3 linked regions of the Homo sapiens genome follow. The protein of the gene in region 2 interacts with the protein of the main gene of each other region in a biochemical or structural test. Each region holds a gene or a part of one and is shown on either strand. Other genes may lie near its edges.

What was found.
Region 1: the proteins of HSF1 (region 2) and MINK1 form a complex in vitro, tested with the Homo sapiens proteins (one study listed by IntAct).
Region 3: the proteins of HSF1 (region 2) and FILIP1 form a complex in vitro, tested with the Homo sapiens proteins (one study listed by BioGRID).

What each region holds. Positions count from the first base shown.
Region 1 is NC_000017.11:4,836,321-4,840,049, reverse strand, and holds part of MINK1 (misshapen-like kinase 1), read right to left. Parts: intron 1-3,729. UniProt on the Homo sapiens protein: Serine/threonine kinase which acts as a negative regulator of Ras-related Rap2-mediated signal transduction to control neuronal structure and AMPA receptor trafficking.
Region 2 is NC_000008.11:144,297,946-144,301,674, reverse strand, and holds part of HSF1 (heat shock factor protein 1), read right to left. Parts: intron 1-3,729. UniProt on the Homo sapiens protein: Functions as a stress-inducible and DNA-binding transcription factor that plays a central role in the transcriptional activation of the heat shock response (HSR), leading to the expression of a large class of molecular chaperones, heat shock proteins (HSPs), that protect cells from cellular insult damage.
Region 3 is NC_000006.12:75,491,701-75,495,300, forward strand, and holds the start of FILIP1 (filamin-A-interacting protein 1), read right to left. Parts: upstream 2,101-3,600; 5' UTR 1,714-2,100; intron 1-1,713. UniProt on the Homo sapiens protein: By acting through a filamin-A/F-actin axis, it controls the start of neocortical cell migration from the ventricular zone. May be able to induce the degradation of filamin-A.

The sequences.
Region 1 (3,729 bases), on a different chromosome or scaffold from region 2:
CTCTTGTTATATGTGCCCACGGCATGTTAAAGTTTTCACTACAGTCCTTATCATGGCTTGCAATCACACACACACACACACACACACACACACACACACACACACACACATTAATAAATAATTACTTGATTAATGTCTCTCCCTACTACTAGACTGTATCACCACTGTGTCCTCTGTGCCTAGTTCTAGATCTTTCCTCAAACAGAACACAAAATCCTACCCACACGTAGCACGTACAACCTCAGGCTGTCTAGCCACTGGACAAAATCTCCAGGGGCTCTCTTGGGTCACTACAATTCCATCCCTCTTTTCTCTCCTCCCTTTACTATTCCCGCCCTTAGTAAGAACAAAGAGCCTCAAAACCCTTTTTCCATTACCCCCTAGAAGAGCTTCCTATAGATAAGAGAAGCCCAGTCTCAAGTCAAGGACTGGTTGGTTCGGAGGAGAATGGCAAAAGAACTGGAGAGAGCAAATGGCCGTGAGCTGTGGACAGGATCCAAGTCTTCTACCAAGTCACGTTTTTGTATCTTACTATACTCTGTGTGAATTCAAGAAATGCTTTGAGAGTTGACTTATTAACCTGATCACTTTTGTTCTGTCTTCAATCCAGGAAAGAGAAGACTGAGACAGATAGTAGTAAAAAGTAGGTGTCGAAGGGAGTGGGGCTGAAGACCAGGTTTCAAGATGACTGCCCACTGACCACAGAAAATGAGTGTAATTCATGGAAATCAGGTTTAACAAAAATGTCCCAACCTTGAAGGTTGCAGGATATTGAGGAAAACAGTAACAGTTAAGAAAAAGAGTCTAGGCCGGGCACGGTGGCTCGCGCCTGTAATCCCAGCACTTTGGGAGGCTGAGGCGGGCAGATTACAAGGTCAGGAGATCAAGACCATCCTGGCTAACACGGTGAAACCCCGTCTCTACTAAAAATACAAAAAATTAGCCAGGCATTGTGGCGGGCGCCTATAGTCCCAGCTACTCGGGAGGCTGAAGCAGGAGAATGGCGTGAACCTGGGAGGTGGAGCTTGCAGTGAGCCAAGATCGCGCCACTGCACTCCAGCCTGGGCGACAGTGCGAGACTGCGTCTCAAAAAAAAAAAAAAGAGTCTAGGCTTGGAAAGGCATTGCTTTGCTTGGGTGGATGTCCCCAGAGATCTGGTTAAATAGCTTAGTAGAGGACTGAGTACTATATTACATCCTTTCCATAGAATCTGGAACCTGATTCTCAATACATAGACTGCCAATGCTTGGCGACTGACTGGTGGAGGACAGGGGATTATTGATAACTTTCTCTGATTCAACTTTGTCTGGAGACAGAAATATTAGACAGGCAGACTCTCACCGGCTTCTGGAGATGTTCTCCAGTCCAGAATTGCTTTATGTTTCTGGGTTGAGAGGTTACTGCATGCCTTATCTACAGACCTACACCAGAATACAAGCTTATCAAGAGCGGCTGCACACTTCCTGCCATCATGTCCCCTAAATGACAAACAAAGATGGTTTACATGTGCAAGTTGTGTGTGCTACCCTGTCTTAGGCACACAGTTCAATGCGGAAAGGAATGGAGGCCAGATGTGAAGTCAGGATTCTACCCAGCAGAGTTTTAATTGAGCTCCTGGGGCAAGAGTGAGGGGGTGGGCCAGCTGGCTCTCTTGCTGACCTTACTGTTATCTTAACTGTCAAAACCTCCCTGCTGTGTATATCCCTAAGGACTATGGCAAACTGTCCTATCCCATAGCATAAAGGGTGGGGATGTCTCTCCCTCTGTTTGGGGAATGACTGATCACCTAGTTTCAGCCAAGTTCTCAGTAATCTTCCTTCCGTCATTTTGCCAAGGCAGCATTTCACTTCATCTAAATGCCTCGAGCTCTCCAAACAGCCCCATTCCCCTTTTGCAATTTTCCAGGGGAAAAAAGTCACTATTGAATGTCCTTACTTCTGCAGCAGGAGGTCACTCTTCCCATTCTCCTGCCTAAGGCATCTGTCATCAACATTTGGACAGCTAGCACATCAGAACACAGAGGCAGTCCCACGTTGCTCAGCAGCCTAGAAATACATGCCCAGAACTGCCAGCTTTCCGAGTGGTGCTGGCTCCACAGCCGCATGAAGAGAGGAGGAAGGCGAAGACACTTATCCAAAGAACAGACACAACAACACAAAATCATTTGAAAAAGAACATCTCTGTCAGCAGCTACCACCGAGCAACAAGTCCTCCTTGAATGTGCTCCATGCTATGATTTCAATCCAGCGACGCTAAGCATAGCTCCACAGTTTCAAGGACACTGCAGTCAAACTTCGAGCTGGATGGTAAAAAGAAGCTGTTTGATTTACGAAGTGGGTCAACCAAAAGGAGCAATGCAAAAGGAAAGAGGTCAGGCCGGGGCCTGCCCCCTCCTTGTCCCATCCACTTCCACTGATATTTATCCTTTGTGAGAAGCCAAGAGTTCCAAGTCAGAAGGTTCTCCTGGAATATAACCAAGCTTAGACACAGAGGCCCACATTTTCTCTTGGATGATCCTAACTTTACTTCAAGGGCATCGCTCAGCTGGAGGCTTCCAGAACTGTTTACCCCAGACAAGGTCTGATTCTAAAAACATCCCAGAAAAAATATATTCTTAATTGTGCATAAATAAAAGAGGGGCAAAATGAAGCCTAAGAAGCCTGGGGTTTATTGAATACTTTCTCTAAGCAAGCACTGCACTGTGTTGTAAGTGGCACGTGTTGTAAGAGGCACTTCTGCAACAAACGTTTGAGCCCCCATTATGTGCAAAACATGCTTACAGGCACTGGGGATACAAAAATGAACAAAACAGCCAAAATCTTAGCTTTCACCGAACTGTTTGTTGTAGTTGTTGTTGTTGTTTGAAACAGAGTCTGGCTTTGTCGCCCAAGCTGGAGTGCAGTGGTGCAATCTTGGCTCACTGCAGCCTCCACCTCCAAGGTTCAAGTGATTCTCCTGCCTCAGCCTCCCGAGTAACTGGGATTACAGGTGTGCGCCACCATGCCTGGCTAATTTTTTTGTATTTTTTTTTTAGTAGAGATGGGGTTTTACCATGTTGGCCAGGCTGGTCTCGAACTTCTGACCTCTCAGGTGATCCATCTGCCTCGGCCTCCCAAAGTGCTGGGATTACGGTCGTGAGCTACCACACCCGGCCACTGAACTGACATTTTAGTGGGGCTGACAGGAATATATATGTCAGCTGGTGATAAATACTATGAGGAAGGATAAAGCAGACTAAGGGAATGCTATATAAAATTTTGTATAAAAATAAAGCAGAGGAGGGAGTGCTATTTTAGATAAAGTTGTCCTGGAAGGCTTCTCTGATTGCCATTTGATAAAAATAACTGCAAAAAGGGCTATCACATATATGATCACTGTGTGCTGGGAACTGTACTATGTACTTAACGTGCATTTAATCCTCAGCAACTCTGCATTCAGTACTATTACCATGCCCACGATACAGGACTGAATGAAGCTTAGAGAGGGTAAGGCTCTTGGCAGAATCTGCAGTAAGGGGAGCAGGGCCAGGGTTACATTGTAAGGGAAGAAACTAGGACTTGAACTCAGGGCTGCAACTTCAAACCACATGCTTTTCCTCACCACGCTGCAGCCAGGCTGGTGGAGAAAAGGAACCTCAAAGAGGTCAAGTGTGGCTGTGGCTACAAAGTAGCAGGTCCATCTGGCCTCCCCACACATGGCTAAGAGATTAACGCAATTCAATCTTCCCTA
Region 2 (3,729 bases):
CAGGATGGTCTCGACCTCCTGACCTGGTGATCCGCCCGCCTTGGCCTCCCAAAGTGCTGGGATTACAGGCGTGAGCCACCGCGCCCGGCCTCTTCTGGAGCTTTTAAGATTTTCTCTTCACCAGCCTGTTCCAGCACTTTGATTATATAATGTACCTTGATATGGTTTTGGTTTTATCCTGCTTAAGACTGATATTCTTGGATTTGTGAGCTTACAGCTTTTCAAAAATTTGGGAAAAATTTTGGCCATAATTTTTTTTTTGAGACAGGGCTCTGTTGCCCAGGCTGGAGTGCAGTGGTACGATCATGGCTCACTGCAGCCTCCACCTCCTGCACTCAGGTGATCCTCCCGCCTCAGCCTCCCGAGTAGTTGGGACCACAGGCAGGCACTACCACGCCCGGCTAATTTTTGTATTATTTATAGAGACAGGGTCTTGCTATGTTGCCCAGGCTGGTCTTGAACTCCTGGGCTCAAGCGATCCACCCATGTCAGCCTCCCAGAGTGCTGGGATTTCGGGCAGGAGCCACCGTGTCCAGCCTTTTGGTCATATTTCTGTATTCTCTTCCCCACTGTTTTCTGGAACCTCAAATACGTTAGACCACATGATATTATGTCCTTGAAGCTCGGCTAAGTTTTTGCAGTCCTTTTTCTCCCTGTACATCACTGTGGACAGTTTCCATTGCTTTTAGTTCAGGAATCTTTTCTTCTGAAGTTTCTAATGTTTTGTTAAACCGCTCCGGTGACTCTGAAGAACCACCTTTTTACTTTAGAATACATGCCCTACACCAGTGTCCCCCATCATTAACATCCTGCCTTTGTGTGGTACAGTTGTCTCAAGAACATTAGACACATTGTTAACTAGGACCCACATTCTAATCAGATTCCTTAGCTTTTTACCCAATCCTTCCTCTGCTCCAGGACATCATCCAAAATCCATCCAGTTGTCACATCTTCTTCAGTCCCACTGACTCTGGCACCTTTCAGACTTGCCTAGTTTTTGAGAACCTTGACAATTTTGAGGACTCGTCAAACAGTTTGTGGAATGTCTCTCAATTTGGATTTGTTTGATGTTTTTTCATCATTAGCTGGGGTTACGTATGTTTTTGGGAGGAAGATCAAAGAGGTAGAGTGCTGTTCTCATCATCCTATCAAGAGTACACAACAGGCCGGGCGCGGTGGCTGACGCGCCCAACACTTTGGGAGGCCAAGGTGGGCGGATCACGAGGTCAGGAGATTGAGACCATCCTGGCTAACACGGTGAAACCCCATCTCTACTAAAAATACAACAAAATTAGCCGGGCGAGGTGGCGGGTGCCTGTAGTCCCAGCTTCGTGGGAGGCTGAGGCAGGAGAATTGCTTGGACCTGGGAGGTGGAGGTTGCAGTGAGCCGAGATTGTGCCACTGCACTCCAGCCTGGCAACAGAGCGAGACTCCGTCTCAAAAAAAAAAAAAAAAAAAAAAAGAGTACACAACAGTGATACGCATGTCACTGCTGATGGTGAGCATGGTCCCTGGTGAGGCTGTGTTGCTGGAGGTCTCCACTGGAAAGCTGCTCCTCCTGCTTCTGTGCTCTGCTCTTTGGAAGAGGGTCACTAGGTAAAGCCCAGGCTTCTGGAGTGAGGAGTTAAGCATCACCTCCTCGAAGGGGAACTATCTCAGTAAACAATGTGGAATTCTTCTACTTGGGAGATTAGTTCCAGTGACATTTTGTCCAACTTGCTTCTTTTCTGTATCTTCCATTTCTCAGTCATGTTTTCTTATTTTTTGAGACGGGGTCTCGCTCTGTCACCCAGGCTGGAGTGCAGTGGCACGATCTTGGCTCACTGCAAGCTCCACCTCCCGGGTCCAAGCAATTCTCCTGCCTCAGCCTCTGGAGGAGCTGGGACTACAGGTGCCCGCCACCACGCCCGGCTAATTTTTTGTATTTTTAGTAGAGACGGGGTTTCACCATGTTAGCCAGGATGGTCTTGATCTCCTGACCTCGTGATCCACCCGCCTCGGCCTCCCAGAGTGCTGGGATTACAGGTGTGAGCCACCACGCCCAGCCCTCAGTCACATTTTTGTGTTATTTCTTTGAGCACAGGGAACATTTTTATAATTGTTTACTGTCTTTGTTGGCTAATCCTATCAAAACTGGGCCTGCTACTGGACCCCCTCCAGTGACAAGTCCATTTTTCTGCTTTGGCTTGTCTGCCCATGACTGATTAGATTCTGGACGTGAATTTTTTTTTTTTTTTTTAGAAGGAGTCTTGCTCTGTTGCCCAGGCTGAAGTGCAGTGATGCGATCTCGGCTCACTGCAACCTCTGCCTCCCGGGCTCATGTGGTTCTCTTGCCTCAGCCTCCCAAGTAGCTGGGACCACAGGCGCCCATCACCACACATGGCTAATTTTTTGTAGTAGAGACGGCGTTTCACCATATTGGCCAGGCTGGTCTTGAACTCCTGACCTCAGATAATCCGCCTGCTTCGGCCTCCCAAAGTGCTGGGATTACAGGTGTGAGCCACTTCGCCTGGCTTCCTTCTCTCAAGAGTGCTGTGTGTACTCCGTGCTAGCAGGCAGTGGTGTTTCCAGGGCTTGCCTTGCACTTGTTTCCACGGCATTGGAGTGGCCTTTCCTCTGCAGCTTATTCTGCGCCACTTCCAAGCTGTGTTTCCTCTAAGGTGTCATGAAAGCTCCTTGTATTTAAAGTGGCTTCTATACTCTGGCTGGTGGGAACTGAAATAACCACGGCCCTGTGTGAGTCCTGCTCATCTGTCCCCTTACACTTACTCTTCCCCTTCAAGTTGCTCTTGGTCCAGCTCCACGAGGTTTCACTGTGTGCACCAGCAAATCGGATCCAACCCAAGATGCAAGCGGGCTCACGCGCAGATTGCTGGAGCTCTTTGTTTTGGGCGTAACTCCTTCCTTTCTGGTACCACACCCCACACATTCTAGCTGCCTCAGCTGCCCCAAAGTCTGGGTTTGTTGGGTTCTCTGCACGTGAGTCTGCAAATTCCCTCCACATAAAAAGCCTGGACAATTTTGTGGTTTACCTCAGTCCTCGCCGGTTTTTTCTTTTCTTTCTTTTTTTTTTTTTGAGACAGTTTCTCGCTCTGTGGCTGGAGCGCAGCGGCGCAATCTCGGCTCACTGCAACCTCTGTATCCCAGGTTCAAGTGATTCTCCTGCCTCAGCCTCCCGAGTAGCTGGGATTACAGGCACGCACCACCACGCCTGGCTATTTTTTTTTTTTTTGTATTTTTAGTAGAGACGGGGTTTCACCATGTTGGTCAGGCTGGTCTTGAACTGCTGACCTCAGGTGATCCAACCGCCTCAGCCTCCCGAAGTGCTGGGATTACAGCCGTGAGCCACCGTGCCCGGCCCTAGTTTTGTAACGTCTGAACATTTTCAGCGGCTTCTTATGCCTTAAGGGTTAAATCCAAGTTGAACATGTCAGGCAACCCCTACCTTAGGGGCCATTATGAATTTCACAGGGTCTGCTGGTGAACCCATCAGAGAACCCAGTGTCTCTCTCATCTTCCTGCCTCAGTGGAACAAGGTCCCTCCTCTGCTGACCACAGGCACCTCTTGGAGGAGTCACCGGTCATAACTGGATATCACGAAAACCTGCCACTGGAAATGGGAGGCCCCTGGCTGGTGCGAGATGCCACACGCTGAGAAGTGTAGGTGTCAGCAAACCCCGCAGCTTGCAGTAAACTTGGAGCCTGTGGCCTCATTTTCTGCAGCACTGT
Region 3 (3,600 bases), on a different chromosome or scaffold from region 2:
AGAGCCTGATTGTTCATATAGTGGAGGAAACCGTGTTGTTTAGCCTGAGCTGAATTGCTGTTGATTCTCAAGAATAAATGTACAACAATGAAGACAATTAATGATACTGAAAAATTCACTTCATCAGCAAACATGACTTTTACACAGGGCCAAATGCTGCACTTAGTTATCGCCACACTGTCCCACTGACTCCAAAAGAAATTACATGCCTAGAATCAATGGTAGATTTTGGCCTTACACATACATTTTTAAGTCAACAATGTGACCCTTCTTAGGATAAAAACAAGAAAAATGTAAAGCATTTAGTTCTGACTTTTCAAACTCCTTCAAGACAAAGATATTTCATCTCTACTAAAGCACCAGGAGTTTCAGTCTCTAATAGTAAACTTACCAGAGTGCATTTTGCACTATTATTTATACATATTTGTATATGTGATTCGCTTATGTACTGTATAAACAAGTAAACAGAATTATAAAACATAACACATACTGAAATGAGTGCCCTATTTCATTTTCCTGAGCATATGCTATATAAGCTTTAATTAGCTTTTCTTAAAAGAAGATCATTTTCTGAAAAGGTTGATACATTCTTATTTGTCAACAAATAATATGTTAAAAACTGGTTTTGGGTAAATTCTTTCTTTACATTGATAGAATAGACTTTAAAAATTCCAATTAAAATGTGCTTCTATATCTTCTTTGATATTATCCTTAGACTAAAAAATTATTCAAATCATCATATTCATTTAGAGGTAAAATATTTTTATGGAAATCTACCCCAATTACAAACCACCAGATGTCAATACTAACTATATCAACAATGTACAACCATAAGTTGTCATATTCAACATGAAATTGGTTACTATAAGCAATTCTGATAAAATTGCATGGCAACTCATGGAAGGGGAGACAAGATGCCATCAGCTGAAAGGAGGATTTCCTTTACACTATAGTAAACACATTCATACACACACACATGCAACTTAACAGAAAATGTTTTCTAATTAAGTTTTTAAAAATAGAATCTGTTATATCTAAATACAAGTATTGATTTATTTTTTAAAAGTACACAAATATCATTATCTTGAGTAGTTATATTCAACAACTTCAAGAGTAGTGATTTAATACCAGGCATATTTTATGCCCAGTCAGAAGCATTTGGGGTGACTCTAGTGTAACGAGGTCAGAACCAGCACAAGGTGTACCAGTGTAATCAGAGAATTAGGCAAAAGGAGACACATGCAACAGCAGGTTTAAAAAGTACAGCAATACAAACACCATGCGGGACTTTCCTCTCATTTACCAAACACAAGCTGCTTAGCTAGTTTCAGTAAATGAAAGTTATTTTACTTCTAGGGGAGATATCCTTTTCATTGCTTAGCCATCCCAATTGTGAAAGGAGATGTGAAATTGTCCTTTGTCATAGTTCTGTTACCTGCCGAAGAGCACTAACTTGGGAGAAATATTTTGATGTCTACTAAAACACCATAAAATTATGTGTTTAAAAAGGAATTGGTATAATTTTGAGGAAGAGATGATGTTTCTGACTTTTTAAAAATAATTCACAATGGTTATCGTAACTTCTAAATGTGTTATCACATCATAGAACAGGAAGAATCAAAGGAAACAGACAAAACAGAATGGGAGAGAACTCTCTTCTTGTGGAAACAGATATTTCTTAAGAGAGTAAGTATTTATTTATTTTGGTCTTACCTGACGGCAGCTCCTTTAACCAAAGGTATGTCCTCTATGTAGGTAGTTTATCCTTTGAAGAACCCAGTGGCTTGTCTCACAGCCCAAGACAGATTCGAGTTCTCAAAAACTATCCAGCCCAAAAGAATACAGAGGAAAAAGCTTTTCCCACTTTCTTTCCCAGGACCAGCCAATAGCTGAAGTCATGCAGGAAACAGAGTAGAGAGGAGGGAAAGCAGCTTCTTCTCCCTGAAATCCCGATCAGCAGAAATTGGAAGTTGTTGTATATCTCCCACCCAGACTTTTGTTTAAAAGTTTTTTCTACTGTTGCTAGGTGTTGTTGGGTTCGGAGATTAGGTTTCTCCTCTTCTGCTCCCTTCACAACACTGTCAGAGCAATGGCTATGTTGAGGAGCTGAGCTCGCGGGTGCTATATTTAACCAGTGTTCTCAGCAAGTCAAGCCTGTCAACAGCTGAGAAGTTTGGAGCCGGCTTTACTCAGTTCCTAAGCAGCTGGGTTATCAGTGGATACAGCGCTGCTCACCCTGTAAAAGATTGCGGGAAAACCGGCAGGCCCTTTTAAGGACTTCTGCTCATTTCACAGAGGTAATTATTGTTTGAAGCTCTTAACTACAGACTGAGATTTGGGACTTAGGTTTTAAAATGTGAAGAGAAACAGAGCAGCAGTTGTCTTAGGCAGAGCAATTTACTAATGCAATATTCTTCTCGATTAGGCTCTCTCAGATAAATGTTCTGAAATAAAAAATGCTTTTTAAAAGTGTATCACTTCTGCATAAATGGAGGTCTTAAAAAAGTGTATCACAACTGTTGGTTGTGAAAATGAGTACAAGATCACTTCCAAACAGCTTTTGACACTGGTGTGTTTCATTTATAGCTAGATCACTTACCTAGTCATATCAAACTTTTGTCCAGCTATGTACCTGAATGTTATTAAAATAATATTACCATAAAGGAATGTCTATAACATTATGATTTTGAAAGGAGTAACATTAAGAAGGAAAATCTTAGCATCCTCACTCAGGTCATTCATTCAAAGTAACACACGGTAAACACTCCAGGAAATCCAGGACATGAGATACCTCTGGTTGTTGACAGGCTTGCCTCATCATTAACCCTCAAGTCTCTACAACATGAAGAATGTCTCAAGATACTTTATGTGCTTCATCCTACATAACAAAACGGTATGAATCTGCCGAGATTGAAACTTTTTAGAAATTGTTTAATTAACTAGTTTTGGGGACCGTTTTACTAATTACATATGTGAAATTAACACTAAGGGAAACTGAAGGAGGTCCTCTTGGCCACAGGTAAAGTAGGAAGGGAGACACACACACCACACACATATACACACACACACAGAGAGAGAGAGAGAGAGAAACATTATTGATTAACAAACTAGAATATGGCCCTGACAAAAATCTCACCAATACCATTATAAAGGTTGACCCTCTTCCTGAGATCAATTTATCAGATTAAAGATACCCTCTTTTTGACATGCAAACTGAAGATGAACCAAGGGCATATGTAAAGGTGTGGATGTAATATTTTAAGAGTTGCATACTTGCAGTAAGTAGCTTATGTGCTGGGTAACCCTATGTCTCTGAGAAAGTCTGCCACTTCAATCAGGAGTGTGTGTATGTCCTTCTTTTTAAAGAAATGACCCTCACCTGCTCAAGCCATTCAAAAACATCTCAGTTCTTCTCATTCCAAATACCACACTGACAGCATGCACCCTGCCCCTTTAATGTATTTACTACCATACACATGTAAAATTGCATTTGCTCAGACTCAGTCTTTCTGAGTCTGAGCCAACCATGATTTAAAAAAAAAAAAAAAGAGACTTCTATTAAGATGAAAGAGCTCTCATGTGAAATTAACTGACTCTTCT